Regions from separate parts of the Homo sapiens genome. Here region 2 is linked to region 1. Evidence: fine-mapped expression QTL. A gene starts in region 1. The other region holds a variant in brackets. All regions are shown on one strand. Distances are from middle to middle. Region 1 holds the start of RNF122 (ring finger protein 122). Region 2 has its middle 17 kb from the start of SNORD13.

Region 1 (16,362 bases):
TGTTGCCCAAACTGGAGTGCAGTGGCATTATCTTGTGTCCGGAAGTGGTGGCTTCTTGGTCTCACTGACTTCAAGAATGAAGCCGTGGACCCTCGCGGTGTGCGTTACAGCTCTTAAGGTGGTGTGTCTGGAGCCTGTCCCTTCTGATATTCAGATGTGTTTGGAGTTTCTTCCTTCTCGTGGGTTCGTGGTCTCGCTGGCTCAGGAATAAAGCCGCAGATCTTCGCGGTGAGTGTTACAGCTCTTAAGGCAGCGTATCTGGAGTTGTTCCTTCCTCCCGGTGGGCTTGTAGTCTCACTGGGCTCAGAAGTGAAGCCGCAGATTTTCGCGGTGAGTGTTACAGCTCATAAATACAGCATGGACCCAAAGAGTGAGCAGTAGCAAGATTTATTGCAAACAGCGAAAGAACAAAGCTTCCACAGTGTGGAAGGGGACCCGAGCACGTTGCTAATGTTGGCCCGGGCAGCCTGCTTTTATTCTCTTATCTGGCCCCACCCACATCCTGCTGATTGGTAGAGCCCAGTGGCCTGTTTTCTCAGGGCGCTGATTGGTGCGTTTACAATCCCTGAGCTAGATACAAAAGTTCTCCACGTCCCCATCAGATTAGTTAGATACAGAGTTTCCACACACAGGTTCTCCAAGGCCTAGAGCAGCTAGATACAGAGTGTCGATTGGTGCACTCACAAACCTTGAACTAAACACAGGGTGCTGATTGGTGTATTTACAATTCCTGAGCTAGATATAAAGACTCTCCACGTCCCCACCAGACTCAGGAGCCCAGCTGGCTTCACTTGATGGATCCCGCACAGGGGCTGCAGGTGGAGCTGCCTGCTAGTCCTGCGCCGTGCGCTCGCATTGCTCAGCCCCTGGGTGGTCGATGGGACTGCGCGCCGTGGAGCAGAGGGTGGCGCTCGTCGGGGAAGCTCGGGCCGCACAGGAGCCCATGGAGTGGGTGGGAGGCTCAGGCATGGCGGGCTGCAGGTCCCGAGCCCTGCCCTGTGGGAAGGCAGCCAAGGCCCGGCGAGAAATCGAGCGCAGCGCCGGTGGGACAGCACTGCTGGGGGACTCGGTACACCCTCCGCAGCCACTGGCCCGGGTGCTAAGTTCCCCATTGCCCGGGGCCAGCAGGGCTGGCTGGCGGCTCCGAGTGCGGGGCCCACCAAGCCCACATCCACCCAGAACTCCAGCTGGCCCGCAAGTGCCGCACACAGCCCCGGTTCCCGCTCGTGTCTCTCCCTCCACACCTCCCTGCAGGCTGAGGGAGTGGGCTCCGGCCTTGGCCAGCCCAGAAAGGGGCTCCCACAGTGCAGTGGGGTACTGAAGGGCTCCTCAAATGCCACCAAAGTGGGAGCCCAGGCAGGGGAGGTGCTGAGAGCAAGCGAGGGCTCTGAGGACTGCCAGCACGCTGTCACCTCTCAATCTCACCTAGCTACAACTTCCACCTCCCAAGATCAAGCAATTCTTGTGCCTCAGCCTCCCAAGTAGCTGGGATTATAGGCACCTGCCACCATGCCTGGCTAATTTTTTTATTTTTAGTAGAGACAGGGTTTTTTCACCACATTGGCCAGGCTGGTCTCAAACTCCCAGTGGGTGATCCACCCACCTCGGCCTCTCAAAGTGTTGGAATTACAAGCATGAGCCACTGTGCCTGGTCCCAAGCCTTACTCTTTTTTTTTTAGATTTTTTTTTAAAAATTATACTTTAAGTTCTGGGGTACATGTGTAGAATGTGCAGGTTTGTTACACAGGTATACATGTGCCATGGTGGTTTGCTACACCCATCAACCCATCACCTATATTAGGTATTCCTCCTAGTGCTATCCCTCCCCCAAGCCTTACTCTTAATCACTGAACTAGTGCTGGGGAAAATGTGTGCTTTATGGAGAGAGACTGAGATTGGTTGGAGTTCTGGCACCAACACTTAAGAATTGTCTGATTTTCGGCAGGGCATCATGGCTCACACTTGTGATCCCAGCACTTTGGAAGGCCGTGGTGAGTGGATCACCTGAGGTCAGGAGTTCAAGACCAGCCTGGCCAACAGGGTGAAACCCCATCTCTACTAAAAATACAAAAATTAGCTGGGCGTGGTGGAGGGCACCTGTAGTCTCAGCTACTTGCTTGGGAGGCTGAGGCAGGATTATTGCTTGAACCCAGGAGGTGGAGGTTGCAGTGAGCCAAGATGGTGCCACTGCACTCCAGCCTTGGTGACAGAGCGAGACCCTTTCTCAAAAAAAGAAAAAAAGAATTATGTGATTTTTCTTTTATTTGCTCATCTTTGTTAGGCAAGAATTATGTGATTTTTGGTGAAACCTAGTCTTCTTGGGCTTTGATTTTACCTTATAGAAAAATAGAAAAAAGATAATCCCTTAATGGTTATGATAAGGAATAAATAAAACTATCCAAAGACCTGAGCACAGGGCTTGGCACAGATAGGGGTGGTCAGTAAAAGGTGGTCTTCTCCTCTCCTTCACTTTTTTCTCAAATCTCCACTCTCATTCATACATGAGATGGTTCAGCTGTGGCCAGACTGTTGGCTTCGTTCCAGAAAGCAAAACGTAGCAGGACTATGCGGAATTCCTGGGAAACCAGGTACGCCTGAACTCCATAGCCTTTGTTTCCTCCCAGCCTCTGCTGACACTTAGGAAAAGCATCAGAGCATTCCCTAAAGAAATACTTTAATTAATAAAAGCCCCTGGCACCATCCCAGAACTGCCCCAGCTTCTGGAGAGACAAAGTGTTTTCCTCCTTAGTCACACCAATGCCTTTTTCTCTGATTGCACTTTCCACGTGGTTTTCGAGCTGACAGGAAGGGTGGGAAATTGCTGCTTTGCTTTCCTGGAGAACCACAGACTAGGACCTGGGGGCATTGCTGGGTAGATTATGAACACCTTTGGCCAAGAGTTGCATCGATCCCCTAAAAAAACCTAGGTACTGGCCAGGCGCGGTGGCTCATGCCTATAATCCCAGCATTTTGGGAGGCCGAGGCAGGCGGATCACCTGAGGTCGGGAGTTCGAGACCAGCCTAACCAACATACGAAAAATACAAAATTAGCCAGGCGTGGTGGTGCATGCCTGTAATCCCAGCTACTCAGGAGGCTGAGGCAGGCGAATCACTTGAACCCGGTAGGCGGAGGTTGCGGTGAGCCGAGATTGCGCCATTGCACTCCAGCCCTGGGCAACAAGAGCAAAACTCTGTCTCAAAAAAAAAAAAAAAAAAAAATTCCTGTTACTGAGACTTCTAGGGTATCTGGACAGAAGAAGGCTAGATCTTCCAAGAATAAAAATTGCAGCCGGGGAGACAGAGCAAGATCCTGTCTCAAAAAAAAAATAAAAAGAAAACGCGAAGGCTTCATTTGCCCAATATACAATGCACGACTCTCAACACCTTCAAAGAATTACATGCCCCTCCCATGAAAACGCTTCTTTTTTTTTTTTTTTTTTTTTTTTGAGACGGAGTCTTGCTCTGTCGCCCAGGCTGGAGTGCAGTGGCGCGATCTCGGCTCACTGCAAGCTCCGCCTCCTGGCTTCACGCCATTCTCCTGCCTCAGCCTCCCAAGTGGCTGGGACTACAGGCGCCCGCCACCACGCCCAACTAATTTTTTGTATTTTTAGTAGAGACAGCATTTCACTGTGTTAGCCAGGATGGTCTCGATCTCCTGACCTCGTGATCCGCCTGCCTCGGCCTCCCAAAGTGCTGGGATTACAGGCGTGAGCCACCGTGCCTGGCCTGAAAATGCTTCTTATACAAAATTTAAAAGTTTGGGAAAATATTGTCACAATTTGTCTAATTCTGAAACATGACATGTTTACTTGGGGTTATTTATCGTTTTTTTGGTGGGAGGGCAGGGAACTGGGTCTCACCCTGTCACCCAGGCTGGAGTGCAGTGGCACAATCTCAGCTCACTGCAACCTCTGCCTCCCAGGCTCAAGCCATCCTCCTGCCTCAGCTTCCTGAATAGCTGGGACTACAAGTGCACTCCACTATGCCCAGCTAATTTTTGTACTTTTTGTAGAGATGGGGTTTTGCCATGTTACCCAGGCTGGTCTTGAACTCCTGAGCTCAAGTGATCTGCCTACCTTGGCCTCCCAAAGTGCTGGGATTACAGGCATGAGCCATGGCCCCCAGCCATTTATCATTTTTTACAACCATCCATGGTTACCATTCTCTGCTACATTATCGGGTCACACTTGGAGGCCCATGAAAGAGGGTGTCTTACTAAAGATGAAAGGAGGTGATTCAGGCCTTTTCCCCCATGCACCTCCACAGAATTGACTGCTTCTCTCCAGAGTGTTTCTCTAATGTTCACAAGGCCTTAAAATGAGGGGGCTCACGGAGTGTCTAAGAGGAAGCTGGAGTCAGGCAGTGGGAATAAAAAGAATCCCTTGACTCCTCAGAAGCTTTCCTAGGCCAGGCACGGTGGCTCCTGCCTGTAATCCCAGCACTTTGGGAGGCCAAGGCTGAGGGATTGCCTGAGTTCAAGAGTTTGAGACCAGCCTGGGCAACATGGCGAAACCCCAGAAAATTAGCCAGGCATGGTAGTATGCGCCTGTAGTCCCAGCTGGTCGGGAGGCTGAGGTGGGAGGATCGCTTGAGCCTGGGAGGTGGAAGTTGCAGTGAGCCGAGATGTCACCACTGCACCACTGGGTGACAGAGCAAGACCCTGTATAAAAAAATTAATTAATTTTAAAAAAAAGTTTTTCCGGAAGTTTAGTATTATTTTTTCCCTTTCCATGGAAGATTTTAAAACATATTTCTTTCTTTTCTTTTCTTTTGTCTTGCTCTGTTGCTCAGGCTAGTGTCTAGTGGCACAATCATAGCTCACTGCAGCCTTGAACACCTCAGCCTCTGGAGTAGCTGGGACTACAGGCATGTGCCGCCATGCCCAGCTGATGTTTATTTTTTGTAGAGATGGGGTCTTGCTATGTTGTCCAGGCTGGTCTCCAACTCCTGGCTCAAGCTCCTTCACCTCAACCTCTCAAAGTGCTGAGGTGTGAGCTACCACACCCATCCTAGAAACATATTTCTACCTCATATTTATCAAGTAGCTTTGAATATATGGCCCATCATCTTCTTTACTGTTTCAGTTTCTTCCTCAATAAACCAAACTAGTCTTCCTGACTCATGTGGAGCTGAGTCACCTGGTGGTGAGGGTGGAGGAGTGAGAGATCTAAATTTGGTTGACATGGTGTGAGAAATCAGCTTATCTTTCATAGAACCCTTCAGTCCAGGAAAATGCTGGGACTGAACCAATCATTTCAAAGATGCCCAGAACCAAAGCCCTTCTACCAACATATAACTCCCAATGTCAGCCATCAGTTGAGGTCCTGTGGCCACACTGGCCAGGAGGGACGAAGGGAGGAGAGTGTGAAGGGATACAGCAGTTTTTCGAAATTGGAGTCCTTAAGTGCCTCTGGAGATCTTATTGAATGCTTAAAATATCAGGCTTAAAATATAAATTGTTGCACCTGTAATCCTAGCTGCTCAGGAGGCTGAGGCAGGAGAATCACTTGAACCTGGGAGGCGAAGGCTGCAGTGAGCTGAGATCAAGCCACTGCACTCCAGCCTGGGCGACACAGAGCAAGACTCCGTTTCAAAAAAAGAAGAATTTCCATCATTCCTACCTTTAAGGGTGTTTTCCTTCCAAGAACCTCTAGTCCAAAGGCGAGTGGGACGGGAGGTGTTCCTCACTTCCCATCAATTTTCCCTTCAAAGGCTCTCCTTCTTTCACAGTCTGGCGCTGGAGGCAGTTAGCAGGAGAGCCTTAATAAAATTAGGATTACCCATCACATCTCTCCCCCGAGCCAATGAATAGAAAGAACAATAGTTACCATTATGCACACTTTTTTTTTTAAAGACTTTATTTTTCAGCGTAGTTTTAGGTTCACAGCAAAATTGAGAAGAAGGTACAGAGTTCTGATACACCCCCAGCCCCACACATGTATAGCCTCCCCCATTAATCCTAGCACTTGGGAGGCTGAAGCAGGCAGATAGCCTGAGCTCATGAGTTTGTGACCAGCCTGGGCAACGTGGCTAAACCCAGTCTCTACAAAAAAAAAAAAAAAAAAAAAATTAGCCGGGCATAGTGGTGAGTGCCTGTAGTGCCAGCTACTCAGGAGGCTGAGGTGGGAGGATGGCTTGAACCCAGGAGGTGGAGGTTGTAGTGAGCCAAGATCATGCAACTGCATTCAAACCTGGGCAACAGAACCAGACCTTGTCTCTAAATAAATAAAAACAACAACAAAAAAGAATATACACAGCCTATGTTCAAGGAAGAGTAACAACAAAAAGCTTCATGGCTGATGAATAGTGTGTGGTGAAGGGGAGTATTTGAGTATGAGGAAGACTGAAACAAATAAGGCTAGACTGAAACACTTTATTTTAATAGTTTTTTCTTTTTTCTTTTTGAAACAGAGTAGTCTCATTCTGTCGCCCAGGCTGGAGTGCAGTGGCACAATCACAGCTCACTGCAGCTGCATCCTCGACTTCTCGAACTCCAGTGATTCTCCCACCTCAGCCACCAGAGTAGCTGGGACCGCAGGTGCGCACCACCAGGCCCAGCTAATTTTTGTATTTTTTTTACAGGTGGCTTCACCATGTTGCCCAGGATGGTCTCAAACTCTTGAGCTCAAGCAATCTGCCCGCCTCAGCCTCCCGAAGTTTTGAGATTATAGGAGTGAGTCTAGACTGAAACATTTTGAATGCCACACTCTAGTTTACAGAACTTTATTCAGTAAACACTGGAGACCAACAAACGTTATCAAGCAAAGAAATGTTCAGATTTACATTTTACAGAGATAATTGTGACCAGAAGGGATGGACTTGAGAGTGAAATCAGAGCACTGTTTCTTTCAATAGCCGCATGAGAATTTGAGGGGTGGGGAAGACAAGGCACATTAAAATGAAAATTTCTGGGTCCACCCTTTATTGAATCAGAATCTCTGGGTTCAAGGCCTGGGAATCTGCATGTTACATCTCAAACATAGGAGTGATTCTTGTAGGCTCTGAAGTCTGAGCTATAGACTAGAATCAGAATGGCCAGTTAGGAAGCTTTTGCAATTATCCAATTAAGAAATGAAATGTCCTGGGTGCCATGGCTCATGCCTGTAATCCCAGCAATCTGGGAGGCTCAGGCGGGAGGATCACTTGAGTCCAGGAGTTCGAGACCAGCCTGAGCAACATAGTGAGGCCACTCATCTATACAAAACAATTAAAAAGTAGCTGGGCTTGGTGGCAGGCACCTGTGGTCCCAGTTTCTTGGGAGGCTAAGGTGGCAGGACTGCTTGGGCCCAGAAGTTGGAGGCTGCAGTAAGCTATTATTGCACCGCTGCACTCCAGCTGAGTGACAGAGCAAGACTCTAACTCAAAAAAGAAAAAGAGGGCCGGGAGCGGTGGCTCACGCCTATAATCCCAGCACTTTGGAAGGCTGAAGCAGGAGGATCACTTGAGGCCAGGAGTTCGAGAACAGCCTGTCCAACATGGCGAAACCCCGTCGCTATTAAAAATACAAAAATTATCTGGGCATGGTGGTAAGCGCCTGTAATCCCAGCTACTCAGGAGGCTGAGGCAGGAGAATCACCTGAACCCGAGAGGCAGAGGTTGCAGTGAGCTGAGATCGCGCCGCTGCACTCCAGCCTTGGCGATAGAGGCAGACTCTGCCTCCAAATACATAAGTAAATAAATAACAGATCTGTAGGCGGAAAACAATGTGGCAGTAATTGTTCCTTTGCCTTGGTGTCCCTGGGCAAAAGGCAGGCCCCCACTCCGGGGCATCGCTCGTCGCCGCTCCATTCTCTGCAGACCGAAGTTTCCCCAGGCCTGGGAAGACTAAGTGGGAGGCGCCCACCGTGCGAAGATCCTCCCGGCTTCCAGGGAAGGGAGGCTGGGCCTGCAAATAATAGCCGGGGGCAGGAGAAAGGCTCCGATTGGTCGGAGGGAGGGTGACGAACAAGGGGCGGAGTTTTCCTGGGGACTGGTGGGGGAAGTAAAAGGGAGGGGGTGTGCACCGCCGGGTGTCAGTTTCGGAACCCCAGCCAGCTCACCTCTGCGCCGCTGAACCCGATCCGAGCCTCCGGCAAAGGTTTTTCCCTCCTCCCCCGGCCGAGGGCTTCTGCAGCCCGGGCACCCCCGCCCCGCGGCGCCCCACATTCCCCCAGCCCGGGGCCCTTGGCGCGTGCGCTCCGTGCGGCTGTGCTCCGCGGGACTTTGTTTGTTTCCTCCTCGTCCCTCTTTGTTGGGCTGAACACCAGCCTCGTCAAAGCCCCCCACTCCGGAGGGAGTTCGGCTTCTCCAGCAGGGCGGCTGCAGCGCGCTGCCCCGACCCCGCCTGCGGCCCCTCACGCCGCTAGTGCTCCCACCCCGCCCTCCTGGCACCCCGCCTGCGTCCGTTCGCCCGAGGAAGCCAACCGCGACTTCATTGATGCACCCATTCCAGTGGTGTAACGGTGAGTCCCCGGGGCGAGGGCCGAGCCTACGTGGGGCTGGTGGGAGCCGCGGCGCGGGGTGCGAGGTCGGACAGCAGCGCGCTGGTCCTCCCTCGGGAACCAAGTTTCTCCTGAAATGGGACAGTCGAGAAGGCGTCTTGGCGCCCCACTCTGCTCTGCACAGCGCGGAATTTGAAACTATCCAGGTTTCACTCCAGAGCCTGGAAGGGGCCTCCGGACTGGCGGCGGGCCGGGGGCGTGGGAGCCGAGGGGTTCCCGGCCTTTGTGTGGCGGCCCGGCTCTTCTACCCCCTTCCCCTGCCTTTGTGCGCTCAAACTCTGTTCTTTGTTGTGGTTGTTGGAGGAGAATTAAATCCGCACTCGGGCTGGGATCTCCTAGAGGGAGCTCAAGTTCCCGGCCTGAAACTTTGCAGGCTATTGTAAATATGTATACCGTGCAGCGTGCGGGACTGGGCGCGGGGGTAGCTTCCTCTGGCTTTGTTGGTTTCCCACGGGCTGCTGGCGTGGCTTGGGTGCTTGCGGAAGACTGGATTAAAGAGTCGCTTTCGGCCAGGCGCGGTGGCTCACGCCTGTAATCCCAGCACTTTGGGAGGCCGAGGCGGGCGGATCACCTGAAGTCGGGAGTTCGAGACCAGCCTAACCAACATGGAGAAACTCCGTCTCTACTAAAAATACAAAATTAGCCGGGAGTGGTGGCGCATGCCTGTAAGCCCAGCTACTTGGGAGGCTGAGGCAGGAGAATCGCTTGAACCCAGGAGGCGGAGATTGCAGTGAGCCTAGATCGTGCCATTACACTCCAGCCTGGGCAACAAGAGCGAAACTCCATCTAAAAAAAAGCCGTTTTCCTGAGTTGATAAACCCTCGCAGAGAGCTCCGCGCCCGGCTGTCCCTGGGGTGCGAGGCTGGCCTGGCGGGAGCCGTGTTTCTGGCCACAAGGCCAGATTAGGGTGTCTGCTCCTGAGCCCAAGTGAAGGCCACACCTCCAGACGCGACAACCCCTCGCCCCATTTCTCCCCAGGCCTGGGTGATGCTTCTAAGTTAGTTCATTTCACCTGAGGCTTTTTGGAGGTTCAGGTGATACTGGGTTAGGCTGGAGTCTGATTCCTCAGCGAGCTACCTGAAAGGTAGGTGTTTCTGAGCGGGACACTTCAAAACCTTGGATACTAATCGCCCCCCACCCCACCCGCTCCAGTCCTCCTGGGGTCCTAGTCTTGACCGCGTTGTTCCGATGCTTGGAGAGTTTCTGGGAGAGAGAGATGGGAAGCAGCTGGCCTTATCTCTCAGTATGGCAAGCGAGCTAGTTACAGGGGGAAAAAAATCATTCTTTAGAGTAGACTCCTGCCAGATCTTGGATTAATTATGTCAAGAGGCTTTGTTTTGAGGCAGGGTTTGGGTAGCATGTATACCCCACATCCCCCCACCCCGCCTTCCTCCTTTTGCTGGTCGGATCTCATTTCCTGAAAATGAACCAAGCCGTGTGTGATAGGCGGTTTTGTGGGAGAGGGGGCAGAGGATGGGGGTTGAGGAAGGCCCTTGCACCCTAGCATCTGGGAAAGATTCCCGTTGGCTGGGAAAGAGAAGCAGTTCCCAGATCCCCTGGTCTTTCTTGGCCAGCCCTTGTCTGACGTCATTCCTGCTCCCAGCCTGCCAGATGAGATGAGACATTCTGATGTCAGTGCTTTCATAGGTTGGCCGAGACAATGGAACAGAGACTTAGGGAGAAATGAGGCAGCTGTCAGTAACACTGCCCTTTCTGGGCAGCGCCCTTTCATATCAGATTTTAGACTTGCTGCTTTATTTTTTTTATTTTTTATTTTTTATTTTTTTGAGACTGAGTTTCGCTCTTGTTGTCCAGGCTGGAGTGCAATGGTGTGATCTCGGCTCACCACAACCTCCGCCTCCCGGGTTCAAGCGGTTCTCCTGCCTCAGCTTCCCGAGTACCTGGGATTACAGGCATGTGCCACCATGGCCGGCTAATTTTGTATTTTTAGTAGAGAGGGGGTTTCTCCATGTTGTTCAGACTGGTCTTGAACTTTTGACCTCAGGTGATCTGCCCACCTCAGCCTCCCAAAGTGCTGGGATTACAGGCGTGAGCCACTGCGCCCAGCCTACTTTAATTTTTTTTTTGAGAGAGGGTCTCACTCCGACAACCATGCTGGAGTGCAGTGGCACGATCAGGGCTCACTGCGGCCTCCAACTCCCAGGCTGAAGGGATCCTCCTGCCTCAGCCTCCCAGCATAGCTGGAACCACAGGTGTGTGCAACCATACCTGGCTACTGGCTAATTTTTAATTAATTAATTAATTAATCTACTTTTTGGGGATAGGGTTTCACTACATTGCCTATGCTGGTCTTGAACTCCTGGGCTCAAGCAGTCCTCCCACCACGGACTCTCAAAATGCTGGAATTACCTGCAGGAGCCACCTTGTCTGGCCCTCTTTGCACTTCTTAGAAAAGTGACTGAGAGATCCTGTCCTTTGACTCCTGTGAAGAAGCAACCCTTCCCTCACCCCTTCAGAAACTACCTGGAGCCCCTCTTTCCTGGGGCTGGTATTCTCTGTCCTTATACAGTTTTAAAGAAAAACTTACTACAGTGTCAGCTTTTGACCAGTAGACTATTTTGCCATTTCTTTAATAGTAACACAAGCAAATGAACCATCTCCTCTTGACTATGCTCTTCCCACCGACCTCTTTATCACGTGAAATACCAAGCTCACTGATTCAATCAGTGGGAGATAAAGGGGAAGCCTTTATCAGGCAGGATAAGTTGGTGGGGATAAACTGATCAGAGGACTTGCGGGGACCATCGTGCTTGTGGAGTGCACAGATATCCTCTGTAATAGCTCTGACCAGGTTCTGCAAGTTCCCAGAACTGGAAACCAAAGGAGGTTTCAGCTCATAAAAGGTGCCTGGAAGAACTAAGGAAACGGGGGGTTAGACCCTCTTGTAACATCAAATAGTGCGGGGGAAGGAGGTGAGAAAACAGCTGGGAGCACCAGGTCTTGTTGGAAGGGAAGTCCTGAGCCCCTTTTCCAGCATAGACTGAAGTTTGTCACTCTAGCCAGTCTGCCATGATGTCCTCATGGAAAATTGTTCTTCTTTGACCCACAGAAAGTAAATATTTGGGTGGGGACTGGTGGTGAAAAGCACTTTCTCTCTAACCCCTACTAGAGCCTAGACACAAGGAACTTCCTGTTGGGCACAGCAAAGTTTAGTAGCTAATTATTTCTTTCATTTCAACTTAATCAAAAAGTCTTTCACAACAAGAACTTCTACTTTCTGTTTTCCCACAATGTGTAGGTCAGTGCATAAAGCAAGCCCTCAATAATACTTGCTGGTTGACTGGTGATCCATTAGCGGAGGGCAGTTTCTGGGCAATTTTCCCAAACATCAGTCCTGCTGCTTTGAAGTGGGAGGTTTTGCCAAGGGGACCAGGTTATTTTAAGAAAATGGGGAATTATTTATCTGTTAACTAGTTATTGAGAACAAGCCAAACTCTAGGCTAGGCCGGACACTGGAGAATATACAAAAGTCCAAGTTGGAGTCAGCAAACCTAGGAGGGTTCAGGCTTTTTTTTTTTTTTCTTTTTTTCTTGAGTCTCACTCTGTCGCCCAGGCTGGGGCACAGTGGCGCCATCTCAGCTCACTGCAGCCTCTGCCTCAGCTCACTGCAGCCTCTGCCTCCCGGGTTCAACCAATTCTCCTGCTCCAGCCTCCCGAGTAACTGGGACTACAGGTGTGCACCACCATGCCCAGGTTTTTTGTTTTGTTTTGTTTAGAGACGGGAGTCTCTCTCTGTTGCCCAGGCTAGAGTGCAGTGGTGTGATCTCCGCTCACTGCAACCTCCGCTTCCCAGGTCGAAGTAATTCTCCTGCCTCAGCCTCCCGAGTAGCTGGGATTACGGGTGCCAGACACCAAACCCAGCTAATTTTTGTATTTTAGTAGAGATGGTGTTTCACCATGTTAGCCAGGTTGGTCTTGAACTCCCGACCTCAGGTGATCTGCCTACCTCAGCCTCCCAAAGTGTTGGGATTACAGGCGTGAGTCACTGCACCTGGCCTGAGCCTCACTTTCTATGGTGAAAATCTTTGTGTCTTTTTTTCCTATGTGGTAAGATCATCAGATCATCTAATCTTTTTTTTTTCTTTTTCTTTTTTTTTTTTGAGACAAGGTCTTACTCTGGCCCATGCTAAGTGCAGTGGTGCAATTGTGGCTCACTGCAGCCTCGACCTCTCAGACTCAAGTGATTCTCCCATCTCAGCCTCCTGAGTAGCTGGGATTATAGGCACTTACCACCACACCCAGCTAATTTATCATTATTATTATTTGTAGAGGTGGGGGTCTTACTATGTTGCCTAGGTTAGTCTTGAACTTCTGGCCTCAAGCGGTCCTCCTGCCTCAGCCTCCCAAAATGCTGGAGTTACAGGTGTGAGCCACCACACCCGGCCTGTGCTTTCTTTTAATAGTACTTACCATATAATCAATGCTTAATGCACATTTGAGTTAAAGTAACTTAATGCTAGGAACGATGTAAGACAGTTAACTGAGTAAGTAGGGGCCGAACAAATGATGGAGGTCATGAGTGCTGTAGAATTGAAGGAAGAGAGGTTATTGGACTATCACAGGCTTGATGGGCCTCAGAGAGAGCGTTTCAGGCAGGGAAAGCTGTGTAAACAAAGACAGGGAAGCAGGCAAGGACAAGATTGTACAAGAAATAGTGAAAAAGACTGGCCCACATGGAGTAGTATTGGAGAACTTTTAAGTAGGAAGTTGTGAAGGGACAGGGTGAATGTTTTAGGAGGACTTGAAGCCAGTCATGAGTTTGTAAAATACAAGATCAAAACGACAAGGAGAGGGCGGGGCACAGTGGCTTATGCGCTGTAATCCCAGCACTTTCTTGGGAGGCCAAGACGGGTGGATCACTTGAGGTCAGGTGTTCAAGACCAGACTGTCCAACATGGTGAAACCCAGTCTGTACTAGAAATACAAAAACTAGCTGGGCGTGGTGGTGTACACCTATAGTCCTAGCTACTCAGGAAGCTGAGGTAGAAGGATCACTTGAACCCAGGAGGCAGAGGTTGCAGTGAGCCAAGATAGTGCCACTGCACTCTAGCCTGGGTGACACAATGCAAGACTGTCTAAAAAAAAATTAAAAAAAAAAAGGCAACTAGGAGGATGTGTCAGGCGTGTGGGGTAAATGAGAGAAGGAACTAGAAACAGGGATGACATCAACTAGGAAACAGTAGGAGGTGATGAGTGTTTACAATAGGGCTGTGGCAGTAGAATTGGGCACAGCCTGAAAGAGGTTTGAATGGAGGCTCGTTATATAGTCATCAGTAAGGGATGAGGAGGACTGATGTCCAAGTTGACTTCCAGTCTTTCAAGCCACCTTCTGCTGAGTTGTAGTAGCACTGGTTATTAGCGTATAGAATTCTGTGGCATGTGAATGCATCCTGGCTCCTAACCAAGATGTCAGGAAAGTGCCTAGAACCCAAGGCCTGGGTACAGAGAACCCTTTGGAGCTGGGCTTTCCTAGCTGTTTGACTGTGGGCGAGTTACTAAATGATTGAGTCTTTTTCCCATTGGCGGGGGGAAGTAACCTTTACTGTGGCAGTACAAAGATTAAATTGATAGCATGAGAATGTGCTTAGGATGCAGCAGGTGAACAGCAAATTCCAGCTCTCCCTTTCATCAAGGACTCCCCTCTTTCCCTTTCCCTTCTGCCATCCTCAGCCATTTGACTTTTTTTGTTTTGTTTTTGTTTTTGTTTTTAGATGGAGTCTTGCTCTGTCTCCAAGGCTGGAATACAGTGGCACGATGTCAGCTCACTTGCAACCTCCACCTCCCAGGTTCAAGTGATTCTCCTACCTCAACCTCCCGAGTAGCTGGGATTACAGATGTGTGCAACCATGCCCAGCTAATTTTTTAATAGAGATGGAGTTTCACCATGTTGGCCAGGCTGATCTCAAACTCCTGACCTCAAGCCATCCAGCCGTCTCGGGCTCCCAAAGTACTGGGATTACAGGCGTGAGACACCATGCCTGGTCAAGCATTTGACTTTCTACTGAGCTGCTCTTTCCAGCTACAGCTTGGCTATCACAATTCTAGGTGTCTCTGAGAGACATGACCCCCCTCACAAAAAAAAAAAGGAAAAAAAGAACCTGCCGGGTGCAGTGGCTCATGCTTATAGTCCCAGCCCTTTGTGGGGCTGAGGCAGGAGGATCTCATTGAGGCCAGGAGTTGGAGGATACAGTGAGGCATGTTTACACCACTGCACTCCAGCCTGCAGGGACAGAGTGAGACCTTGTCTCCAAAAACAAACAAGCAAAGTTCCTTTTCCAGCAGATCTCTTTGTTTCTTTGCTCAGAACCTGGTTACGTACCCACCTGAACACCAAATACTGGCAAGGGGGGAAGGGAGAGGTGACTATCATGATGAGTAGGCCAGTCAGTATTTATCCCTGAGTCCTGTGAGAAGGGATGCATCTAGTGGCTGGCCAGTGCTTTTCAAACTGAATGTGCAGGGGAATCACCTGAGGAGCTTGTTAAAACGTAGGTCCTGGCTAGGTGCCGTGGCTCATGCCTGTAATCCCAGCACCATGGGAGGCCAAAGTGGGTGGATCGCCTGAGGTCAAGAGTTCGAGACCAGCCTGGGCAACATGGTGAAACCCCATCTCTACTAAAAATTCAAAAATTAGCCGGGCATGGTGGCGTGCGCCTATAATCCCAGCTACTCGGGAGGCTGAGGCAGGAGAATCGCTTGAACCTGGGAGGCGGGGTTTGCAGTGAGCCAAGATCACGCCACTGCCCTCCAGCCTGGGTGACAGAGCAAGACTCTGTTTAAAAAAAAAAAAAAAAAAAACAGCGTAGGTCCTGATTCAGTTAGGCAGGGATGGACCCGAGAGTATATGTTTCTAAAAAGCTCCCAGAGGATGCTGCTGCCATTGGTACCACACATTGAGACTTTGAGGAGAAAGAGGGAAGGTGACCACAGTAAGGGAAGTTGCAACCTCCTCCCCACCCCCATCGCCACTTTCTGGAATGCTGGCCCAGGACTTGGAGTGAATAATTTCTATTCTAGTCCTGGCATGGCTTGTCTTCTGGAACAGGTGGCTTAATAATGACAAATGACCTTTGCAATTGTCCTTTGCAATTTACAAAGCATATTTTCTTATGCGCTCATTTTCATTCCTCTCTCTATTTTGCTTGTTTTCATATAACAAAGTGAAGCTTAGAGGTAATTTCTTAACGGTCATATGGCTAGCTAGGGATGGGGGAGTTGGAACCCAAATAATATTTTCTCAGCTAAGGCAATATGGGCTCCTACCTAATGGAATTAAGCTCTCCAGTTTCTGCCCATTGCCTAAATTCTTTTTTTTTTTTAATTTTTAAAAATAGAGATTGGGTCTCACGCTGTCACCCAGGCTGGTGTGCAGTGGTGTAATCACCGCTCATTGCAGCCTTGTACTCCTGGGCTCAAGTGATCCTCCCACCTCAGCTTCCTGAGTAGCTGGGACTACATGGTAGTACATGCGCTACCATGCCTAGCTAATTTTTCTATTTTTTTTTAGAGATGGGGTCTTATGTTGGCCAGGCTGTTCTTGAACTCTTGGCCTCGAGATCACCTGCCTCAGCCTCTCCAAAGTACTGGGATTACAGGCATGAGCCACCACACCCAGCTTGCCTGAATTTATTGTCCCTTAGATGGGGATATTGTTTTAAGTATTTTGGATAGTATTCAATTTTGTAGATCAGATTTACTCAAGATTACATAGCTAGTAAATGTTAGAACTAGGATATAAAACTGGAGCCACTGAATCTGAGGCTTAGGTGCCCAGAGCCTGCCAGTTATTTCTATCCTGCTGACACAGTGCTATCAGCCCAGCAGTAAATTTCCAACCCTAATGATTTTTTTTTCTCTCCCT
Region 2 (16,362 bases), 36 kb after region 1:
CATGTACCTCAGAGTCACACAGATCAACACTACCCAGCCATCCTTCTGTACACACCATTTAACCACTAAGCTGCTGGTCTCCTGGGCACCTTTTCTGGCCCCGCCCCTATCTGTCACCCTTCGTGCCTAATGTCAAGTGCAGGAAGCTTACTGAAGTGTCAAAGGCACAGACACTGGGTGACAGTGTGAGACCCTGTCACAAAAAAAAAAAAAAATGCATTTCAAAGCAGATACCAGTAAGCTTCTTATATTAACTTGTGCTGCTAGCTTCTCTTTTTGTGAGTTAACTGAGGATGACTAGAAATCTGCCTTGAATATGAAGATGAGCAGAGAACTTGCTGACAGATTTTTGAAGAGTAGCTCTGACTTCAGGGTGGTTTCAGGAATAACTCAGCTATATGGGTGGGTGTGGTGGCTCCCGACTGTAATCCCAGCATTTTGGGAGGCCAAGGTGGGAGGATCACTTGAGCCCAGGAGTTTGAGACCAGCCTGAGCAACATAGTGAGACCCCCATGCCTGCAAAAAATTTAAACAAAGGTGAGCTGGGTGTGGTGGGCCCATGGACCCAGCTACACAGGAGGCTGAGATGGGAGAACTGATTGAGCTCAGGAGGTTGAGCCTACAAGTGAGCTATGATCACACCACTGCACTCCAGCCTGGGCAAAAGAGTGAGACCCTGTCCCAAAAAAAAAAAAAAAAGGAATAACTCAGATATGAAATCACTTCATATTTATGTATTTATTTATTTATTTGGTATGGCAGGGACAGAGTTTCACTCTTGTCACCCAGGCTGGAGTACAATGGCATGATCTCAGCTCACTGCAACCTCCGCTTCTTGGATTCAAGCAATTCTCCTACCACAGCCTCACGAGTAGCTGGCATTACAGGCGCCTGCCACCACACCCAGCTGATTTTTGTATTTTTAGTAGAGACAGGGTTTCATCATGTTGGCCAGGCTGGTCTCGAACTCCTGACTTCAGGTGATCCACCCATCTTGGCCTCCCAAAGTGCTGGGATTATAGCCATGAGCCACCGCACACAGCCTATTTCATATTTAAAATGTGGTGGCAGTGACAAAGAGTTGACTGCCTCACTTAGCTTTTCTTTCTTTCTTTTTTTTTTTTCGTTGAGACATGATCTGATATGGTTTGGCTGCTCCCCCACCTAAAATCTCATCTTAAATTGTAACCCCTATAATCCCCATAATCCCCGTGTGTCAAGGGCAGGACCAAGTGGAGGTAATTGGATCATGGGGGTGGTTCCCCCATGCTGTTCTCATGATAGTGAGTCTCACGAGATCTGATGGTTGTTTAAGCGTCTGGCATTTCCCGTGCTTGCACTCACTCTGTCCGTCCTGCTGTCCTGTGAAGAAGGTGCCTGCTTTTCCTTTGCCTCCTGCCATGATTGTAAGTTTCCTGAGGCCTCCCCAGCAATGCAGAACTGTGAGTCAATTAAACCTCTTTCCTTTATAAATAACCCAGTCTCGGGTTATTCTTCATAGCAGCATGAGAACAGAGTAACATAGGGTCTCACTCTGTCACCGAGGCTCTGGAGTGCAGTGGCACAGTCATGGCTCACTGCAGCCTCGACCTTCTGGGCTCAGGTGATCCTCGCACCTCAGCCTCCCAAGTAGCTGGGACTACAGGTTTGTACCACCACAGCCAGCTAATTTTTTTATATTTTTTATCGAGACAGGGTCTTGCCATGTTGCCCAGGCTGGGCTCAAGCAGTTCACCTGCCTCGGCCTCCCAAAGTGCTGGGATTACCAGGATGAGTCACCACGCCTGGCCCTCATTTAACTTTTAACCTTGATAAATTGTATGTTGTATGTCAAGGCAAAACGGAAGTGGGGGGGAGGGTGCAGAGGCAAGCATCAGGTGGGTAGAATACCCTCCCTTTATCACACATATTAACATTCCTTGCACAATTACCCAGTGAATATTCTCATTTTGGACTTTTTCCACACCCTAAATTTAGTAAGCTAGAATTATCTTTATTTATTTCTCTCTTTTTTTTTTTCCTAAGTCACTGTGTTTTAGGATAGAATTATCTTTTAAGCACCACTTTAAGCAACCTTTTTGGAAGGAAGAATGCTGACAAGGAGGAGATCTGTGTTTCCTTGTGGTTAGAATGCAATATCCTTAACTTAATCATTCTGCCAAGAAGCTGAGTCTCTTTATATGCTGACAATAGAGCAAAGACAGTAATCCAACACATTCATTACAGGTTTGTAAGATTAAAAATTTATACATTCAGATTGGAAAACATGAGAAACAGACTTGCTGCCAGACCATTAATTCTGGGCATCTCTGCATTCTGTGTTCTGGAAGCTGTGCACATTGAATTGAATAATTGCCTGAAACATGCCAGGGGTTTTCATTATCTAAAGAAGTCTATGTCGAGCCTTTTTACAACTAAAACCTCTCTAAAATGAGACTTAAGGAGTTTTTTACTTAATTTATAGACTTTAAAACACTAAGATCTGCATGTAAATAAGTTTAAGTGAGATGTGCCTATAGAATAAAACAATTAGAAGTAATTTCTTTGGTTTTCTTCTTATTATTATTTTTTAGTAGAGATGGGGGTCTCGATTTTTTGCCCAGGCTGGTGTCAAACTCCTGGCCTCAAGTGATGCTCCTGCCTTGGACTCCCAGATTGCTGGGATTACAGGCATAAGCCCTTGCTCCTGGCCTAGAAGTAATTTATTTAAAGTCTTGTTTACAAAGAGAAATGCACGAAGCACGTACAGAGGAAGAAAGAACAGTTCCAAATGAATGATTTTTGTTCCTAGTATTTGAGGAACAAAAGGTTCACTGACAAGAGTCAGTGATGAAATGTGGCTGTGTTTGGGAAAACATGGGATCTTTCCCTTCTACGCCTCATTATGAGATTAATTTGTAGTGTGGAATAAACAAAGCTAGCCCTGGAATTCAAAGAATGGGTTTTAAACCCAGCTCTGCCTCTAATTAGCCAGGAGACCTCAGCCTAGTTCCTTAATCTCTCTAAGCCTCCTTTTTCTCCTCTGTAAAATGGAGATATAGTAACTGCCTCAGAGTGTGATTAAGAAGAGTACATAAAAAAGTGTATATGAAAGACTTGAAGTCATGCTATTTTTGTTTCTAAAGTCACAGGGGGCAGGGCGCAGTTGTTCACACCTGTAATCTCAGCACCTTGGGAGGCTGAGGCGGGTGGATCACGAGGTCAGGAGATCGAGACCATCCTGGCCAACATGGTGAAACCCCGTCTCTACTGAAAATACAAAAACTAGCCGGGCATGGTGGCATGCGCCTGTAGTCCCAGCTACTCAGGAGGCTGAGGCAGGAGAATCACCTGAATTTGGGAGGCAGAGGTTGCAGTGAGCCGAGATTGCACCAGTGCACTCCAGCCTGGGTGACAAAGCGAGACTCTGTCTCAAAAAAAAATGAATCAATAAAATAAAATAAAAATAAATAAAATAAGGTCATAGGAAGCCATGCAACTAAACAAGGGGACTAAGTGAAAAGTCTGTAAGAAATAAGGAAGTTTGTGTATATCCCTCCCCTGCCATTATCCCAATTAATACAGCTGTCCCTTACTGAGCCTGTACTAAGTCACAAGCACTGCATTCCGGGTTTGCTTTCTTTCACTGGGCAGAGCTGATGCCCACTGAATATACAATTTGTAGAGAAGTCTGATGTGGATGATTGTACTTAGAATCAAACTTCTCAAACTTATTAAACAGCCAACACATATTGAGTGCCTACTACATGCCAGGCATTGTGCCAATGAGCAAGACCAAAATGGCTCCTACTCCCAAGATGTTTACAGTCTAATGGGGGAGATGAAGCCTAAACAAGCATACTCATATATTTAATACATGGACCAACCATCGTAAGGTATCCAGTGACTACCTTCGTAAAACCAGAGGAGAGGGATGGACAAGGAAGGTCTTTTCTGAGCAAGAGACATTTAAGCTCAGAGCACAAGAATGACAAGAGGTAGGGAAAGGCCAGACAGAAGAGTGTATGTAAGAAATTGAGGAAAAAAAAAAAAGAAAGAAATTGAGGGCCGGGGGTGGTGGCTCACGCCTGTAATCCCAGCACTTTGGGAGGCCAGGCGGGCGGATCACCTGAGGTCAGGCGTTCAAGACCAGCCTGGCCAACATGGCAAAACCCCATCTCTATTAAAAATACAAAAAAATTAGCCAGGCGTGGTGGCAGGCGCCTGTAGTCCCAGCTACTCGGGAGGCTGAGGCAGAAGAATCGCTTGAACCTGGGAGGCGGAGGTTGCAGTGAGCCGAGATCACACCATTGCACTCCATTCTGGGCAACAAGAGCAAAACTTCATCTCACAAAAAAGAAAAGAAAAGAAAAGAAAAGAAAAGAAATTGAGAGAGAATAGAGCTTGGGCTGTTGGTGAACACATCCCATGTAATTAAGCTTAGTGAGAGATGGGGAAGGGAGGTACAAATGAGGTCAAAGAGACACAGCAGCAGATCAGGGAGGGCCTAGTAGCCATGTTAGGGAATTCTAACTTTTGATAATAGGACTGTAGCAGAAAAGTGACATTATCTGGGTTAAGTTTTTATTGGAAATGGAATTGTGTACCAGAATGGAAAATAGGCCGGGCACAGTGGCTCATGGAAAATAGGCCGGGCACAGTGGCTCATGCCTGTGATCCCAGCACTTTGGAAGGCTGAGGCAGAAGGATCGCTTGAGGCCAGAAGTTCAAGACCAGCCTGGGCAACATGGTGAAACCCCCATCTCTACAAAATATACATATACATATATATATATATATATATATATATATGTGTGTATATATATATATATATATATATATATATATATATATATATATAAAATAATACAAAAAATTAGCCAGGCATTGGGCCATGTGCCTATAGTCCTAGCTGCCCAGGAGGCTAAGGTAGGAGGATCGCTCCCTTGAACCTGGGAGGTCAAGGCTGCAGTGAGCCATGGTTGCGCCACTGCACCCTAGTTTGGACAACAGAGTTGTTACTGGTGGAAGGTATCCGAGTCACATGGCACCAAAATATGTTAGACAAGGCCAATTTGTAGGGGTCTGCAGCAACCTCAAATCTTGCTTCCTCAGAAGAAAGAATTCAACCGAGGGACCTAAGGCAAAAGGAGAAACCAAGGCAAGTTTTAGAGCAGGAGTGAAAGTTTATTGAAAAGCTTTAGAGCAGGAATAAAAGGAGGGAAAGAACCTACACTTGGACGAGGACCAAGTGTGTGACTTGAAAGACAAGTGTGCGGTTTGACCTTTTGACTTGGGGTTTTATACGCTGGCATGCTTCTGCGGTCTTGTTACTTCTCCCCTGATTCATCCCTTGGGGTGGGCTGTCTGCAGGCACATTCCTGAGCCCACTTGCCCAACCCCTGAGGTCTTCTCAAGAAGCCACTGATCACATTTCATGTGTTTTCCATGTATTAGGACACTGCCTTTCCCTGGCACTGGCTGTGACCAATTACTATTTTAGAAAGACAGTTAACAACTGCCTGATCATCACCTGATGGTTGCCTGATATTCCTGATATTTGTGTGTGTTGGGCGGAGCCCTCTCCTGCCCTGCTCATGCCTGACCAGCTACCTACTGTAACAAAGTAAGACTTTGTTTCAAAAAAAAAAAAAAAAAAAAAAAAAAGAATGAGCCGGGCAGGGCGGGCGCATTATCTCATGCTTGTAATCCCAGCCCTTTGGAAGGCCCCGGTAGGCCAATCACCTCAGGTCAGGAGTTCAAAACCAGCCTGGCCAACACGGTGAAACCCCATGTCTACTAAAAATACAAAAATTAGCCAGGTGTGTGGTGCACACCTGTAATCCCAGCTACTTGGGAGGCTGAGGCACGAGAAGTGCTTGAACCCAGGAGGCGGAGGTTGCAGTGAGTCGAGGGCATACCACTTCACTCCATTGAATTTGGCAATGAGGAGGCTACTGGGGGCCTGAGCAAAAGCAGTTTTGCTGGATTCATGGGGTGAAGGAAAAATTGAGTGTGTTGAACAGTGAATGAGCAGGATACACTGGCTCATGCCTGTAATCCCAGCACTTTAGGAGGCTGAGGCAGGAGGATCACTTGAGACCAGGAATTCAAGATCAGCCTGGGCAACACAGCAAGACCCTATCTCTACAAAGAAAAATAATAATATATGAGAAGAGACAAGCCATTCCTAGAAAATTGAAAAGAAACAAAAATGCATATAAACGTATATCAAGGTCCTCACATAGCCATTGTATAAGTCAGAATTTTCCAGATAGGTAGATAAGAGGGGATGTATTAGGGGAACTGGTTCACATGACTATGGAGGCTGAGAAGCCCCATGATATACCATCTGCAAGCTGGAGAACCAGGGAAGCCAGTGGCATAATTCAGTCTGAGTCCGAAGGCCTGAGAACCTGTGGGCTCCTGGTGTAAGTCCCAGAGTCTGAAGGCCTGAGAAGCTAGAGTTCATATGTCCAAAGGCAGGAGAAAATGGGTGTCCCAGCTCCAGAAGACAGAGTGAATTAGACTTTCCTCTGACTTGTTATTCTATCCAGGCCCTCAACAAATTAGATGATGCCTGCCCACATCAGGTAGCTCTTCCTTACTCAATCACTGATTCAAATGCCAATCTCTTCCGGAAACACCCTCACAGACATAACCAGAAATAATGCTTTCTGGGTATTCCTTGACCAGCTATCTGGGTATTCCTTGACCCAGTTGAGTCGACATCTAAAATGAATATCACAGCTATATAGAAAAGAAGCCTATTTCAAGTAACTTGAAACATAACATTTGATTGAAATTATTATTATTTGAGACAGGGCCTCGCTCTGTCACTCAGGCTGGAATGCAGTGGCCCAATCATGGCTCAAGCAGCCTCAACCTCCTGGGCTCAAGTGATCCTCCTGCCTCAACCTCCCAGGTAGCTGGGACTATAGACATGTGCCATCTCACCTGGCTAATTTTACTTTTTGTAGAGATGGTGGGGGTGGTCTAGCTATGTTGCTCAGGCCGGTCTCAAACACCTGGCCTCAAGCAATCTTCCTGCCTTGACCTTCCAAAGTGCTGGGATTACAGGAGCGAGCCACCATGCCCAGCTGATTGCAATTATTTACTCAGTGTACCCTAAAGACAAAAACAAATAGCAAAGAAGTCTTAAATTATATTCAATAATCTCATGTTTTTTTCTTTCTTTCTTTTTCTTTGAGTCGGAGTCTCTTTCTGTCACCCAGGCTGGAGTGCAGTGGTGCGATCTTGGCTCACTGCAACCTCTGCCTCCTGGGTTCAACTGATTCTCCTGCCTCAGCCTACAAAGTAGCTGGGACTACAGGCACATGCCATCACACCTGGCTAATTTTTGTATTTTTAGTACAGGTGGGGTTCCACCAGTGTTTGCCAGACTGGTCTCTAACTCCTGACCTCAGGTAATCTGCCCACCTCAGCCTCCCAAAATACTGGGATCACAGACATGAGCCACCACGCCCAGGTAATCTTATGTTTAGTAATAACAATATTGCTATTTTAATACCTTTATGTGTATATTTTAGAATAAAGCAAATAAGTAATTACATTAATGTTATTATGAATCAAGATTTTTGGCCGGGCGCGGTGGCTCACATCTGTAATCCCAGCACTTTGGGAGGCCAAGATGGGCGGATCACAAGGTCAAGAGATGGAGACCATCCTGGCCAACATAGTGAAACCCCGTCTCTACTAAAAATACAGAAAAAAATTAGCTGGGCGTGGTGGCACGCTCCTGTAATCCCAGCTACTTGGGAGGCTGAGGCAAGAGAATAGCTTGAACCTGGGAGGCAGAGGTTTCAGTGAGCCGAGATTGTGCCATTGCCCTCCAACCTGGGCAGTAAAAGAGAGGAGAGATACAAGTCTCATTTTAAAGAAGTATAAGCCTGAAATCTTAAATCTGAATTGGAAATATTAATACAAATTTATGATTTTTTTCTGCTTTTAAAGAGCATATATTTCCTAGATGTGTCATCCACCGAGACCTAGAAAACTAAAATCAATACGAATTCAAGAGCAATGGCATCTCACTCTTCAAATTGTAGCCCTTAAATAGCCTTTCCCCTTACAAGGAATTAGGGATTCTTGGAGACATGGTTGCTTCAACCTTGCCATTCTAGAAAGGAAAGAAGCAATCCATGACTACTGAGTCATGTTAATAGGACACAGAAGCCAAAATGAAAAGACCCCCATTGGCAAAAGATGGGACGATTTGAGTATAACAAGAATAATTACAATGGAATAAAACTCATTAAATGTATAAAATTCCTTAAGATCATATAAAACTAGTAAGAACGGGCTGGGTGTCAATGGCTCATGCCTCCCAAATCCCAGCACTTTGGGAGACTGAAGTGGGAGGATTGCTTGAGCCCAGGAGTTAGTAGACCAGTCTGGGCAACATAGTGAGACCCTGTCTCCACAAAATAAAAATAAATAAAATAAAATAAAAACTAACAAGAACAACCACCAAATATCAGGTATTCATTGAAGGTCACTAAGGCACTAAATTCATTATTCTAAAAACTGGCTAATGAAAGGAAAAAATCAAGCATTTATCCTGCTTTTCCTGTGCAAATTGTATTCAGGGTGATCAGATAACTGGTTGCTGGGGGAAAGTTCTATTTAAAGCAGAGTTCCAGGTAAAGATGCAAAAGGAAATAACAGAATTAGGAAATTGCCATTTTGTAACTCTAATGAAGTAACAAAATTAAGCAGTGATTATTCATGGCTCCTGTAGACACCAGGGGAAAGATTGATGGAGACTTTTGTAACAGATCAATCTGTCTTATCATTAGTAAAAGTGGGACAATCAGACATCACATGCCTCCTGTGATACAGTAAGAAGTATACAGCCCCACCCCCAAGGCTGATCCTAAATTTCATTTTATCTCTAGATCCAACCACCCCTTTACAGGAAATGGGTTAGATAGAGGAACAAATTAAAAATAACATCAAGAGCACCTGTAATCCCAGTGCTTTGGGAGGCCAAGGCAGGCGGATCACTTGTGGCCAGGCTGGCCAAGACAGTGAAACCCTGTCTCTACTAAAAATACAAAACAGTAGTCAGGAGTGGTGGCACATGCCTGTAGTCCCAGCTACTTGGGAGGCTGAAGTGTGAGAATTGTTTGAACCCGGGAGCTGAAGATTGCAGG[G/A]AGCAGATATTGTGCCACTGTACTCCAGCCTGTGCAACAGAGTGAAACTCCACCTCAAAAAATAAATAAATAGCTGGGCGCAGTGGCTCACGCCTGTAATCCCAGCACTTTGGGAGGCCGAGGCGGGAGAATCACCTGAGGTCAGGAGTTTGAGACTAGCCTGGTCAGTATGGTGAAACCCCATCTCTACTGAAAATACAAAAAATAGCCGGGCATGGTGGTGTGTGCCTGTAATCCCAGCTACTCGGGAGGCTGAGGCAGGAGAATTGCTTGAGCCCAGGAGATGGAGGTTGCAGTGAGCCAAGATTGTGCCATTGCACTACAGCCTAGGCAACAGGAGCGAAACTCTGTCTCAAAAAAAAAAAAAAAAAAAAAAAAAAAAAAAAAAAAAGAAAGAATATTTTTACAAGTGTTTTTGATTAGGGTAGGTAATACATTATCTAAGAACATCTTACCCAAAGGATAAGACCACACTTTTTTACTCTAGTGCTCCAAAATATTCAATTTCATTGTTGAAATTTTCTATATGCCATATTTCTCTCCAGCAATTGCTATTTCTCTGCTCAGCAAAATGTCTTAAAACAAAAACAGGCTGGGCTCAGTGGCTCATGCCTATAATCGCAGTGCTCTGGGAGGCCAAAGGAGAAGGGCTGTTTGAGCCCAGGAGTTCAAGAACAACCTGGCAATTAGGGAGACCCCATCTCTACAAAGTAAAAAGTATTCACTGTGCATGGTGCTGCACACCTGTAGTCCCAGCTACTTGGTAGGCTGAGGTGGGAGGATCACTTGAGACCAGGAGTTAAAGGCTGCAGTGAGCCATGATCATGCCATTGCACTCCAGCCTGGGTGACAGAGTAAGACCCTCTAAAAAACAAATCAAAAAACCACAACAAATCCACACCTGTTGTCCCCAATTATCCACTCATCTTTTAAAAATTTTTTATTTTTTGATGTTTCTTAAGTTTTAGTTTTCTTTTTTTTTTTTTTTTTTGGAAATTAGAGTTATCCTGGAATGTTTCTTTTTTAAATTGTTTTAAAAACAGAGACGGGGTCGCACTACATTACCCAGGCTGGTCTTGAATTCCCAGGCTCAAGAGATCCTCCTGCCTTGGACTCTCAAAGTGCTCGGATTACAGACATGAGTGTTTCACCAATGTTGGCCTCGAACTCCTGACCTCATGATCCGCCTGCCTCTGCCTCCTAAAGTGCTGGGATTACAGGAGTGAGCCACCGCGCCCGGCTAAATACTTGTACAAATATTAAACTGAAAACAGAATGAAAAGGAAGCTAGCTGGGCATGGTGGCTCACGCCTGCCAACCCAGCACTTTGGGAGGCCAAAGTGGGCAGCTCTGTTGAGGCCAGGAGTTTGAGACCAGCCTGGCCAACATGACGAAACCCCATCTTTACTACAAATACAAAAAATTCGCCGGGCATGGTGGCAGGTGCCTGTTAATCGCAGCTTCTAGGGAGGCTGTGGCACGAGAATCGCTTGAACCCAGGAGGTGGAGGTTGCAGTGAGCCGAAATCATGCCACTGCACTCCAGCCTGGGCCACAGAGTGAGACTCTGTCTCCAAAAAAAAAAAAAAAAAAGAAAAAAGAAAAGAAAGAAAAGGGAAAAGGAAGCTAAGCAATCCTATCATTGTAGAAGGAGTAAGGGAATGTTAGCAATGTGATGTGTTTGTATCCAAGTCAAAGCAGACACCTGGAGTCAAATGTTCAGCATGGATATGACTTTTGTTACTTTGATGACTATTTTGTATTTACAAGATTTTTTTGTTTATATAGCTGTCTACATTGTTTGAAAATATTTTGGTTTCACTTGGTGCTTGTTCTACAAATTTAAAAACATGTTACGCCTGTAATCCCAACAATTTGGGAGGCCGAGGCGGGTGGATCATGAGGTCAAGAGATCGAGACCATCCTGGCCAACATGGTGAAACCTCGTCTCTACTAAAAATACAAAAATTAGCTGGGTGTGGTGGCATGCACGTGTAATCCCACTACTCGGGAGGCTGAGGCAGGAGAATTGCTTGAACCCGGGAGGCGGAGGTTGCAGTGGGCTGAGATCACGCCACTGCCCTCCAGTCTGGTGACAGAGCGAGACTTTGTCTCAAATAAATAAATAAATAAATAAATAAAATAAAATGTTTAGTATATTAGAATATTCTTTAAAATTATTAGTATATCCCTGAGCCTAAACTAACCTTCATAATCCACGTTAAAAATTTTGTAGGCTGAGCGCAGTGGCTCATGCCTGTAATCTCAGCACTTTGGGAGGCTGAGGCAGGTGGCTCCCTTGAGCCCAGAAGTTTGAGACCAGTCTGGGCAACATAGTGAAACCCCACCTCTACGGAAAAATATATATATTAAATTTTTATTTTAAAAAATTTTATAGCCTCATATGCAAAAGAATATAGTGGTTCCCTCAATCTTAGCAGGCATTCAAGGATGATAAATATTGTAATATTATTTTTCCATTTGGCCTATAATCAGAAAAGTAGCTCTGCTGCAAGCAGTAATTATCTTACTGTGTGTTTCTTTATTTTTTTATTTTTTGAAACTGAGTCTCATTCTGTTGCCCAGGCTGGAGTGCAATGGCACAATCTCGGCTCACTGCAACCTCCACCTCCTGGGTTCAAGTGATTCTCCTGCCTCAGCCTCCCAAGTAGCTGGGATTACAGGCGTGTGCCACCACGCCTGGCTAATTTTTGTATTTTTAATAGAGACGTGGTTTCATCATGTTGGTCAGGCTGGTCTCCAACTCCTGACCTCGTGATCGGTCCCCCTTGGCCTCCCAAAGTGCCGGGATTACAGGCGTAAGGCACCGCGGCCAGCCCTTACAGTGTGTTTCAAACTCCTATTATTAACCATGTTTAGACCACATGAACCTTGAAAGCTGTAGTTGGTGTATTTGTCACGCTTCAATTCCATTAGTTTGTTATTCGTAGAATGAAGGGGAGCAAATACTTCCTTTTTTACTTTCTCTCACTTTTGTTTATCCTTATGAAGAAATCTTCATCTAAAATTGTTGATCATATGGTCTTTGGAAAGCTAAGACGTATTGCTTACCATTTAGTCATCAATTCCCAGGAATTTATTTCAGCCTTCCGTTTCTTTTTAAAGGAAATACTTTAAAATGTAATCTTTATCATAATCACATTCATACATAATTTTACCTAACTACCTAAATATAGTAACATATATGCTTTGTAAAAAAAAAAAAGTGCTTTTTTTTCTTTCCTTTTGTTTTGCTGAGCCCCCCATCTTCCTCTCCTCCTCCCTTCCCCTATGTCAACACCATTTGCCCAAGGTCACCCATCCACACCGAGAACCTGGGATGTATCCTCCCATGTTTCCTCTTTACTCAGGTAATCTTATACCTACACATATATATATGAGTCTACACATACAGAGCATTCACTTCTTTTTTGAGGGGAGAGGGAGGACAGAGTCTGGCTCTGTTGCCCAGGCTGGAGTGCAGTGGTGCGATCTCAGTTCACTGCAACCTCTGTCTCTCAGGCTCCAGCGATCCTCCCACCTCAGCATCCCAAGTAGCTGGGATTATAGGTGCATGCCAGCATGCCCAGCTAATTTTTTGTATTTTTGGTAAAGACAGTATTTTGCCATTTTGGCCAGGCTGGTCTCAAACTCCTGACCTCAGGAGATCCACCTGCCTTGGCCTCTCAAAATGCTGGGATTATAGGCATGAGCCACTGCACCCGGCTGAGCAGTCACTTCTTAAATCATAGTTTTGTAAACAAGCACTCATGGTATCTTTATTATTATTTATTTATTTATTTATTTATTTTTGAGACAGAGTCTCACTCTGTCGCCCAGGCTGGAGTGCAGTGGCACAATATTAGCTCACTGCAACCTCTGCCTCCCAGGTTCAAGTGACTCTTGTGCCTCAGCCTCCCGAGCAGCTGGGATTACAGGTGTGTACCAACACGCACAGCTAATTTTTGTATTTTTAGTAGAGATGGGGTTTCACCATGTTGGCCAGGCTGGTCTCGAACTCCTGACCACAAGTGATCCACCCACCTCAGCCTCCCAAAATGCTGGAATTACAGGCGTGAGCCACCACACCTAGCCTGTTAAATCTTACATTCACCATTTAACAGTACCTTATGGAAACCTCTCCTTGACATCTGGCTTAGCTCCATGTCATTCTTAAAAAAAAAAAAAAAAAATGGCTGGAGAATTCCCCAGTGTGGATGTGCCATCGATGAGCAAGCTTTCACTGTTTTCACATTTCTGCATTATGAATAGTGATGTGATAAACCTACTTCTTTATCTTTATGGTCTTGAATCCATATCCTTACATATGGTTATTTGCATTTGCTAGTTACAGGAGAGTTGCCATTGAATTTATTATTCTTTTTAAGAGATGTTGCTTTCCAAAACCTTGAGGAAGAGAGTCAAGAAAAGAAAGGCAAACTTGAACAGAAATGCCTACTCCATGAATTTTTTTTTTTTTTTTTTTTTTGAGACAGAGCCTCACTCTGTCGCCCAGGCTGGTGGGCAGTGGTGTGATCTTGGCTCACAGCAACCTCTGCCTCCCAGTTTCAAGCAATTTTCCTGCCTCAGCCTCCCAAGTAGCTGGGACTACAGGCACCCACCACCATGCCCGGCTAATTTTTATATTTTTAGTAGACAGGGTTTCACCATGTTGGCCAAGCTGGTCTCGAACTCCTGACCTCAAGCAATCCGCCTATCTCGGTCTCCCAAAGTGCTGGGATTAGAGGTGTGAGCCACCCCGCCTAGCCCCTACTCCATGAGTTTAAATTGTGAGGATTGAATGAGGACATAGGTACAGTGTAAAGACCAACCTGGCTGATAATATTTTTTGTTCTCTAAAGACTGTGGGCTCCTTTAGGTCGCCAGCAGGGCCTCTGATGAGTGCCATTTATGTGGTACACAGTGACAGTGATGTTCCAGGATTGTGTAACTGAAAGGTTTAGAAAGAAAGGGTGGAGCCATGAAAAGCACAGGCTTTGGAGTCAACAAACCGAAGTGTAAGTTGCAGCTCTACCACTTTCCGCTGTGAGATCTTGGGCGAGTTACTCAACTTCTCAGAGCTTCAGTTTCCTCCTCTGCAAGATGGAGATAATGATGCGAGTCTGAGAGGGTTGCCTTGAGGAGGAAGTGCATGTAAGGCCCTCAGCAGAGTGCCTGGTGCTCATTAAATATGATGGGTTCTTTATCAGATGTCTTCCTTATAGTTCTTTCCAGCTATGTATCAGTTTCCCCTCGTCAGATGAAAACCTGTTGAATGCAGGAACTGTATCTAATTTATCTTTGCATCTTTACATATCCAGTCCCTAACTTGGTTTTTCCTCCTACCAACTACCTCCAGGTCTTTTGTTCTGCTAAATAAGCATTGATTGAAATAAGGGCAATAACAACAATTTTTTTGTTTTTGTTTTGTTTTGTTTTGAGACAGCAACCTGCTCTGTCACCCAGGCTGGAGTGCAGTGGTATGATTACAGCTCATTGCAGCTTTGACCTCCTTGGCTCAAGCGATCCCCCCACCACAGCCTCCCAAGTAGCTGGGACCACAGGCATGTGCCACTAACGCCCGGCTAATTTTTTTATTCTTAGTAGGGATGAGGTCTCACTATGTTGCCCAGGCTGGTCTCAAACTCCTGAGCTCAAGTGATCCTCCCACCTCAGCTTCCTAAAGTGCTGGGCTTACAGGCATGAGCCACTGTGCCCAGCTAATAACAACAACTTTTATTATGGGCAATTTCAGAGTTACACTAAAGAAGTGAGATTAACATAGAGGACATCTGTGATCCATCACCCAGCTTCTACAGTTGTCAAGATGTTGATAATCTTTTTCATCTAGCTATTGACCACTCCTTCACCACCATCCCCTGTCATGGAGAATTTTATTTTTCAAGTTTTTAAACTTTTTATTTGCCTATTTTAAAAATTGAACCAGGCGCGGTGGCTCACACCTGTAATCCCAGCACTTTGAGAGACCGAGGCAGGTGTTGAACTCCTGAGGTCAGGAGTTCAAGACTAGCCTGGCCAACATGGTGAAACCCCCGTCTCTACTAAAAATACAAAAAAAAAATTAGCTGGGCATGGTGGCAGGCACCTGTAATCCCAGCTACTCGGGAGGCTGAGGCAGGAGAATTGCTTGAACCTGGGAGGTGGGGTTGCAGTGAGCTGAGATCGCACCATTGCACTCCAGCCTGGGCAACAAGAGCAAAACTCAGTCTCAAAAAAAAAATTATGCATTCTCATAATTAAAATTATTTGAACAATAACCACAAAAAATGGCACTCTGATTAAACTGCATTTTACAGCCTGCAGGATGCCTTGGGCCAGCTTGGTTTTATTCTAGATTTCACTGCTATCCTACCACACTTCTTCCTTCACCAAAATGCAAGTTCTTTCCTTCCCTGCCAGCCAGACAGGCGGATAAGAGAGGCTGGCACAGCCATCATCATCAGCAGTTCTTTGATGTGAAAGGGGCAGCACAGTCATTTAAACTTGATTTGACCTCTTTGCATCCTTCAAAGTTAAACAGCTAAAAGAAGTAAAATAGAAAGCAATGCTTTGTGGAATGAACAGTGCATATTGGCGATGCACGCCTCATTACGAAGCCTGCTTGCTTCTCCTGTTCGATCCATTCCTTGGAAGGCTGTGGATTTTTCTCTTGCATTTCTGTCTTCTTCAGTTTCGACTTACTGAATTTCTCGATCTCATCCATATTGGACTTGTCAGACATAGTCACAGAGGAAGCTGAGCAATGCCCACTAGCAAGTGGAATCTGGTCTGCTTAGTGTCTACTGCCCAGTGTTGGGAATTTTAAAACAAATCCCAGACATTGCATCATTTCAACAATTAATACTTGTGTGTGTTTCTAATAATACTTCACAAAGTGTGGTCTGGATTCCTGGGACTTACCAAGACCCTGTCAGGCAGCCTGCTAAGTCAAAACTATTTTTATAACAATATTAATATATTGTTTATCTTTTTGTTCTCATTATCTCGTGTACAGCAGAATTTTCCAACACAGATTGAATGCAGCCACAAATCTGAAAATCCAGCTGTCTCCTATTAAACCAGATATGACAGAGTTGCAAATTTTTACAAATCTATTGACAAAAGTGTAAAACAATATCACTCGTCACGATGCTGTTTGAAAAATATACTTATTTTCATAAAAATAAGTCCTTAACATGTAATATGTT

The links. PIP is the estimated chance that this variant, and not a neighbour inherited with it, causes the effect.
Region 2: its variant is fine-mapped to the expression of RNF122 in whole blood (TOPMed, PIP above 0.99).

Annotation. Positions count from the first base shown.
Region 1 is chr8:33,558,778-33,575,139 of GRCh38, reverse strand. RNF122 (ring finger protein 122) reads left to right here and starts at 8,012. Exons shown (of 6, transcript NM_024787.3): 1 at 8,012-8,441. The coding sequence starts at 8,417. RefSeq lists silencers at 8,128-8,247, 8,298-8,367, 8,398-8,447, 8,588-8,637 and an enhancer at 13,433-13,602.
Region 2 is chr8:33,522,700-33,539,061 of GRCh38, reverse strand. It overlaps the pseudogene LOC100630919. Among named protein-coding and RNA genes, the nearest start is that of SNORD13, 17 kb to the right of the region's middle. RefSeq lists a silencer at 1,214-1,414. The variant G/A (reference allele first, on the strand shown) is at 9,156.